Linked DNA regions of Homo sapiens: all the other regions are linked to region 2. Evidence: fine-mapped expression QTL. A gene starts in region 2. Each other region holds a variant in brackets. All regions are shown on one strand. Distances are from middle to middle. Region 1 has its middle 50 kb from the start of DENND2B. Region 2 holds the start of TMEM9B (TMEM9 domain family member B). Region 3 overlaps NRIP3-DT (NRIP3 divergent transcript).

Region 1 (2,763 bases), 100 kb after region 2:
TTTTTGATATAATGACTCATCCTTTGAGTAGATACCCAGTAGTGCAATTGCTGGATTGAATGGTAGATCTATTTTTAGTTATTTGAGAAATCTCCATACTGTTTTCCATAGAGGTTGTACTAATTTATATTCCCACCAGCAGTGTATAAGCATTTGCTTTTCACCACATCCATGTCAAGATCTATTGTTTTTTGACTTTTTAGTAATGGCTAGTCTGGCTGGAGTAAGGTAGAGTATTTCATTGTGGTTTTAATTTGCATCTCCCTGATGATTTGTTATGTTGAGCATTTTTTTCATATATTTCGTGGCTATTTGTATATCTTCTTTTCAGAAATGTTTATTCATATCATTTGCTCGGTTTTTGATGGGAGTGTTTTTTTCTTGCTGAATTATTTGAGTTCCTTGCAGATTCTAGGTATTTGTTGTTTGTCAGATGCATAATTTGCAAATATTTTCTCCCATTCTGCGGGTTGTCTGTTTAATGGTTATTTCTTTTGCTGTGCAGAAGCCTTTTAGTTTAATTAGTTCCCATTTATTTATTTATTTTTGTTGTTACATTCGCTTTTGGGGTCTTAGTCATAAATTCTTTGTCTCACCCAATGTCCAGAAGAGTTTTTCCTAAGTTTTCTTTTAGAATTTTTATGGTTTCATGTCTTAGATCTAAATCTTTGATCCATCTCGAGTTAATTTTTGTATATGGTGAGTGATAGGGATCCAGTTTCATTCTTCTGCGTGTGGCTAGCCAGTTTTCCCAGCACCATTTATTGAATAGGGTATCTTTTCCCAGTTTATGTTTTTGTTTGCTTTGTTGAAGGTTAGTTGGTTGTAAGTATTTGGCTTATTTCTGGGTTCTCTATTCTGTTTCACTGGTCTGTGTATCTACATTTATACCAGTACCATTGCTGTTTTGTTACTATAGCCTTGCAGTATAAGTCAGGTAACGTGATGTCTACAGATTTCTTCTTTTTGCTCAGGATTGCTTTGGCTATTTGGGCTCCTTTTTGGTTCCATATGAATTTTAGAATTGTTTTTTCTAATATTTTCGAAAATGATGTTAGTATTTGGATAGGAATTGCATTGAATCTGTAGATTGCTTTGGGTAGTATGCTCATTTTCATGATATTGATTCTTTGATTTCATGAGCATGGGGTGTATTTCTATTTGTTTGTGTCACCTGTGGTTTCTTTCAGCAGCGTTTTGTAGTTCTCCTTGTAGTGCTCTTTCACCTTCTTAGTTAAGTATATTACTAGGTATTTTATTTGTTTTTGAAGGTATTAAAAAGGATTGAGTTATTGATTTGATTCTCATCTTGGTGGTTGTTGGTATATAGCAGTGCTACTGATTTGTGTACGTTGATTTTGTAACCTGAGACTTTACTGAATT[T/CATTT]ATCAAATCTAGGAGTCTTTTGGAGGATCTAGGCATCTTTTAGGGTTTTCTAAGTGTACAATCATATCATTAGCAAACAGAGATAGTTTGACTTCCTGTTTTCCAATTTGGATGCCCTTTATTTCTTTCTCTTGCTTGATTGTTCTGGCTAGGACTTCCTAAGGTCATTTTATAAATATTCATAGTAACTAGTTGAAGGCACTGAGATTCCTGTACCTTGGCGGGAAGAACCCTGCTGGATGATTCTCTAGGTGTTTATTTGGGTTATGCCCATTTTCTTTCCCTCTTTTCTTCCTAAGTTTTGATGCTCCTGTTTTTCTGGGAATATTTTGGCTTCATTGTTTAGGCTTTTTTAAGGGCCATGGGGAATTCTGGGGACAGGGGCAGGTGTGACATGTTGCTAGGTATGGGAGGTTTTTACAGCTTGAGAAATTTCCAGGAAAGAAGAGACAGAAAACTTTGTTCACAAAGCATGTGGACAGGAAGTCAGGTGGGAAAATGGCATGGCAGATGGTGTAACTTCTTTGGTCAGCATGCCTGTCTCTGCCAAGATGGGACTGATAGGGTAGTGGGGGTAGTGGGGCAGTGCTGAGGATATAACTTATAATTCACATTATTCCTTGAAGAGAAGATGGTTCTTTGTTTTAAAAGGAAGTATAGTGCCTTACATTGATTTCTTTGAAATATACATGATATAATCCATGAATGAGTATTTGCAAAACACGTGGCCGGGCGCGGTGGCTCACGCCTGTAATCCCAGCACTTTGGGAGGCCGAGGCGGGTGGATCACGAGGTCAGGAGATTGAGACCATCCTGGCTAACATGGTGAAACCCCGTCTCTACTAAAAAATACAAAAAATTAGCCGGGCGCGATGGCGGGCGCCTGTAGTCCCAGCTACTCGGGAGGCTGAGGCAGGAGAATGGCGTGAACCCGGGAGGCGGAGCTTGCAGTGAGCCGAGATCGCGCCACTGCACTCCAGCCTGGGCGAGAGAGGGAGACTCTGTCTCAAAAAAACAAACAAACAAACAAACAAACAAAAAAACACGTTAGTGTTTATCTAACCCTATGCCAAGCCTGGTAGTAGATATACAATACAACTGAGGGAAAGTGATAACCTGAACTTAGAACATATAATTGTTACCTAAAGAATGATATAAAGCAGTACATCATCAAGCTCTAAATTTTGAGTTATTGATACATACAGGGGGTTTGGAGCCCCAGACAAGGTTTAGGACGTGCAGGCTTATGGCAAATCTTGGGCCAAATGGAGGCCTTTGGAGCTTTTGGAGCGCCCAAGGGCTCAGTCTTCAGCCTGTTTCTTGTCTCTGTCTTCACTTTTCTTAGGTGATTCCCTGGCTTTGAAGTACTAGCATTTATGG
Region 2 (2,763 bases):
AAAAGACCATCTTTAAAAATCTGTTGGGGCCGGGCGCGGTGGCTCACGCCTATAATCCCAGCAATTTGGGAGGCCGAGGCGGGCGGATCACAAGGTCAGGAGATCGAGACCATCCTGGCTAACACAGTGAGACCCTGTCTGTACTAAAAATACAAAAAAAAAAAAAGAAAAAGAAAAAGAAAAAAAAAATTAGCCGGGCGGCGTGGTGGCGGGCGCCTGTAGTCCCACCTACTAGGGAGGCTGAGGCAGGAGAATGGCGTCAACCCGGGAGGCGGAGGTTGCAGTGAGCCGAGATCGCGCCACTGCACTCCAGCCCGGGGGACAGAACGAGACTCCGTCTCAAAAAAAACAAAAAAATCTGTTTACAGAGGTAAAAACACGGGTATTACATGGAGCATAATTTGAAATCCATTCCCTCATATTCAGCCAAGAACTACAGGCCCAGAGAAGGGAAGTGATTTGCCAAAGGTCATTCAACAAATCCCTAGGGGCTGTGATGATCCGTGTCCTTGCCATTACCTCCCTTGTCTCCACTAACAAAAATATTTCAATGGGAGAATGTGCCGATCTAAGGCACTCCTAAAGTACTTGCTGAGAATGACAGCCCTGGGGAGACAGGTCGGCAGCCCTGAACAGGCACTGCCTTACCCGGGCGTAGTGCCCCAATTCGCCACCTCTTGGAGTCCTAGGCGGAGGATACTACTGGGGCAGTTGTTTCGCCAATTCCACATCTCCCGGAGCCTGGCCTGGCCCAGCCCAGCCCCGTCGCTGTGACCCACTTCCTAGCTGCAGGCTGGACCAAGGGGAGGCACATGGGGAGCTCCACAGGGAGGCCACGCCCACGAGGGCAGCTCACAGAATTAGAAAGCCGACGGGGTGCTGTGGTCAGGAGGCGCGTGGGCGGCAGGTTAGTACTTAAGGTGCAGAGACCACCCCCAACCCTTTGACTGGCGGTGGGCATCCCGGAAAGGCATGGCTCGGCCAATTCCAGCCCCGTTTCCACGCTCAGCACCCGCCCTGCCTGTGCGCGAACGGCTCCGGCCCGCACGGGTCGCCAGAGGCGACTGTGTGACACTCGGAGTTTGCTGGGGTCTCCGTGGGCGGGAGGACTTTCCAGCGCAATGGCGACTCCCTAAGCCCCGCAGCTTCTGCGCCCGGGAAAGATATCCAAGAGATGCAAAGCTCTACTGGGCCCAGGCTGCCACCCCAGAGGCCCCCTTCCGTCCCGGGGCCGGGGCTAGGCCAAGGCGGGCACCAGGACTGCCCAGCCTCCCGGCCCTTCGCACTGGTAACCGGTTCCGGGGCGGATGCTTTTTGCATCTGACCCGGCGCGCCCGGTGACGCCTTCGCGTCCAGACGGAAGTGCGGGCGGAGGATCCCCAGCCGGGTCCCAAGCCTGTGCCTGAGCCTGAGCCTGAGCCTGAGCCCGAGCCGGGAGCCGGTCGCGGGGGCTCCGGGCTGTGGGACCGCTGGGCCCCCAGCGATGGCGACCCTGTGGGGAGGCCTTCTTCGGCTTGGCTCCTTGCTCAGCCTGTCGTGCCTGGCGCTTTCCGTGCTGCTGCTGGCGCAGCTGTCAGACGCCGCCAAGGTGAGTCCCGCCCAGCCTCGCTCCTGACGGAAGCTCCTCCCCTACCACCGGCCTTGCGGAAACTGGGTCTGCCAACCTGCTCCTTGGCCCATTCCTGACAGCCATACGCCTGGCCTCACAGCTCCGGCAGACCCCCGCCGCCACCAGCCCCGCCCCTCCCGACTGCCCGGCGGCACTCTCGCCCTCAGCCCCGACAGCCTGGCAGGCAGCGCCCCACGGTCGTCCCCAGCCCCGACAGTGCCCACAGTCCGGACAGCAGCCCCCCACCGCCTTAACATTTCCCTTCCCAGCCCCGGCTGCACGCATCTTACACTTGACAACCTTTTCACCTCCGAGAGCCTTTAACTTTCCACCCTAAGCTCTTGACAGCCCACCTGCGCCCTCCGCCAGCCTCACAGGCCCCGCATGCCCCAAGCCAGAATGATAGGAAGCCCCCATCTGACAGAGCCTTCCCTGTCAAGGGCCGACTCAGCTCAGCTCACCCCTGAACACTTCCCTTCCTGTGGTGGGAACTTGCCCCTCCTGGCCTACTTCCCTCCCAATAGGGCCTACGGAGCATCTCTCACCTGCTTCATATTCTCACCTAACTCCCTCCACGAGTCCCTTGGTGCCTTTCTTGCTTTCTCTCTTCCTGATAATTTAGTGGGTAAGGGAAGAACCAAACTGCAAGAGAGGTGAGGTTGTGGCCTCCCTGGTTCGATTTCTTGACCTTCTAGTTCCCTCATACTGTTCTCTGGTGCCCCAGCTCTCCAGACCTGCCCTAGCTCCATGCATACCTGTGCTTCCTCTTTGATGAGCTAGCTCATCATTGGGGGAGAACAGAAGGGATTCACATTAGTATGATGGGAAAACAGAATGACATTGCGTTTTTAAAAATAAGAGCTTTAATTTATAATATCTTTAAATGTAGGAGTGGGGAAAGGTTACAGGCAGGCAAATGTTTTTGATTCAGAGATTCTTTTTGAAACCATCTCTACCTCCTACCAGAAACAGGGACAGCAGCACGTCTCCTGACTTTGAAAACATTGCTGGCACCCTCTGCATATCTTGCCTCATAACTTTATGTATTGTGATCATGTATTTATTTTTCAGTCTCCTTTACTAGGGTGTGTCCTGGTTATGGGCAGAAACCATGTCTTATGCTTATCTGAATCCACCTTATTGAGCACAAGATC
Region 3 (2,763 bases), 49 kb before region 2:
ATGCCTGATCATGCTATAAAACTGTGGACAGTGTAGCACATTGGAACCCCAATGTTACTTCCAGGTGACTTGGCTTGAAGAAGTCAGCTTTTAGCAGCCACATCAGGTACCTAAACTGGAGTTTTAAGTAATGCAGGTGCCAAGTATAAGAGGTTTGATAGGGCCAGGCACGGTGGCTCATGCCTGTAGTCCCAGCACTTTGGGATGTCAAGGCGGGTGGATCATTTGAGGTCAGGAGTTCAAGACCAGGCTGGCCAACATGGTGAAACCCTGTATCTACTAGAAATACAAAAATTAGCCGGGCGGTAGTGGCGCATGCCTGTAATCCCAGCTACTCGAGAGGCTGAGGCAGGAGAATTGCTTGAGCCTGGGAAGCAGAGGTTGCGGTGAGCCGAGATCGTGCCACTGCACTCCAGCCTTGGCAACAGAGTGAGATGCTGTCTCAAAAACAAAAAACAAAACAATTTAAAAAAAGAGGCTTGATAAACCATCACTAAGGCTCCCCATGAGGAACTGGGATGACTCAAACAGCATCACTCACCCAGTACCCCCCGGGCCCAGTATTCCTAATGTACTTCTCTGAAAATGCATTATCTACATTTATCACACTGATAGGTGCCTTCTCTAAGATTTATGATTCATAATGCTCATATTCTCCAAGACTCCCATTATGTCCTTTACGGTACCTGGATTTGTATCCCAGTTCTGCCACTTATTAGCTATGTGACCTTGTGGAAGTTATTTAACTTCTCTGTGCCTCAGTTTCTTCATGTGGTAAATAAAGATAATGATAGTACCTACAAGATAGAGCTGTTTTGAGAATTAAATGAGTTAATACCTGGAAAACTCTTGAAACATTGCCTGGCATGTAGTAAGGGCCCAATAAACGTTAACTGTCATCCTCATCGTTACATTTCACTTCTTGAGACTTTAGAAGTTAAACCCAAGAAACATTCTTTAAAGGGGTTCACTCTCTGCTGGGTTTCCCCATTTCACTGAGATGGAAAGTTCTTTAGTCACAGTTTTTCTAGTGGGGTATGTCCTAGCAACAGAAAAATTAAAGCTTGAAGTAGGAATGAAAGGCTATGATGCCTGATTTGGGTTCTCACACAAGGCCTTCCAAACACCCGTGTCCTCCTGAGCTGGGAAGGTAAAATGAGCTCTTCCAATCGCCTGAGCTTCTCTTAGGTCAGGGACGGCACAGACACAAGTGCACATACACAGCGCAGCCTCTCAATCCTTCATTTTTTCTGAGTTCCAATCCTCAGCCCCTGGTATGTGAGGATCACAGTACATCTCCTTGCTGAGCCCAGAAGCACATGTTTTCCAGAACTGCCTATTTCTATTCGATGTTTCCAGCATGGCAACATCCAACTTCAGAGTCCAAGAAGGCAGTACTCAGGTCTCTAGGCAGGCAAGGTCAATGAAGACACTCACTGTGGCAAGGTGTGAATAATTTGCATGAAACCTGTGGTCATTGAAACAAAGCCCCTTTTTGAGA[C/T]ATGAGGACACAGGCCTGGCCAAGGTGGGTCTGACCACTGTGCAGCATGTGCCAGGGAGAGTACAGAACTCAAAGTGCAATGTGCTAACGGAGTGTAGACAGACTGAAAAGAGTGAATTTCATTTTTTTAAACATCATGAATGAGATAGGAAAAAAGCCAGTAATTATACAGCAGAGAAATCAGGCAATACCTTGACCAGATGATCAAAATTAGCATGTCCAATAAAGGACAGATGGATATCATGTGCCTACAGATGTGATAGCCTGAGAAGAACGTACCATCACCTATACTGTACTCAAGCCAAAAATGCATCACCTCAATCTCAATACAAGGAAAATGCAGACAAACACAAAATGAAGAATGCTCTATTTTAAAAAGGGGAGGGAAGTTGAAAAACAACTTGCACATCAGTGAAATTTTAAAGCTTGTGTGCTTCAAAAGACACTATTAAGAAGTGAAAAGGTAGCCCATGGAATGGTAGAAAATGTTTGTAAATCATATATCTGACAAGAGACTAATAGCTACAATATGTAAAGAGTTCTTACAAGTCAATAATAATGAGACAAATCACTCAATTAAAAATGGACAGAGGAGGCTGGGCATGTTGGCTCACACCTGTAATCCCAGCACTTTGGGAGGCCGAGGCAGGTGGATCATGAGATCAGGAGACTGAGACCATCCTGGCTAATACAGTGAAACCCTGTCTCTACTAAAAATACAAAAAATTAGCCAGGCGTGGTGGTGGGCACCTGTGGTCCCAGCTACTCGGGAGGTTGAGGCAGGAGAATGCCGTGAACCCAGGGGGCGGAGCTTGCAGTGAGCCGAGGTCACGCCACTGCACTCCAGCCTAGGCGACAGAGCGAGACTCTGTCTCAAAAAAAAAAAAAAAAAAAAAGAAGATGGACAGAGGATTTTAATAGACATGTTTCCAAAGAAGACAAACAAATGACCAATAAGCACCTGAAAAGATGCTTAACATCATTAGTCATCAGGGAAACACAAATCAGAACCATAATGAGATACCATCTCAACCTCACTAGCATGGCTATAATAAAAAAGACAGATGGTAAAAAGTGTTGAAGAGGATGTGAAGAAATTGGAACCCTCATACACTGCTGGTGGAGATGCAGAATGGTGCAGCTGCTTTGGAGAGTAGTCTGTTAATTCCTCAAAAGTCACACGGGCTACCATGTGACCCAGCAATTCTACTCCAGGAGATGAATAAAAGGCACAAAAAGATTTCCACATGAGATTTCTTAGC

What was found.
Region 1: its variant is fine-mapped to the expression of TMEM9B in esophagus mucosa (GTEx, PIP 0.97).
Region 3: its variant is fine-mapped to the expression of TMEM9B in blood mononuclear cells (TOPMed, PIP 0.96).

What each region holds. Positions count from the first base shown.
Region 1 is chr11:8,858,954-8,861,716 of GRCh38, reverse strand. It overlaps a transcript of DENND2B not described here. Among named protein-coding and RNA genes, the nearest start is that of DENND2B, 50 kb to the right of the region's middle. The variant T/CATTT (reference allele first, on the strand shown) is at 1,384.
Region 2 is chr11:8,963,034-8,965,796 of GRCh38, reverse strand. TMEM9B (TMEM9 domain family member B) reads left to right here and starts at 1,355. Exons shown (of 5, transcript NM_020644.3): 1 at 1,355-1,588. The coding sequence starts at 1,484. It overlaps TMEM9B-AS1 (TMEM9B antisense RNA 1), which reads right to left and starts at 1,122. Exons shown (of 5, transcript NR_073431.1): 1 at 649-1,122. RefSeq lists silencers at 1,162-1,661, 1,702-1,891.
Region 3 is chr11:9,012,152-9,014,914 of GRCh38, reverse strand. All of the region lies in intron 1 of NRIP3-DT (NRIP3 divergent transcript), which reads right to left. Among named protein-coding and RNA genes, the nearest start is that of NRIP3-DT, 9.4 kb to the right of the region's middle. The variant C/T (reference allele first, on the strand shown) is at 1,502.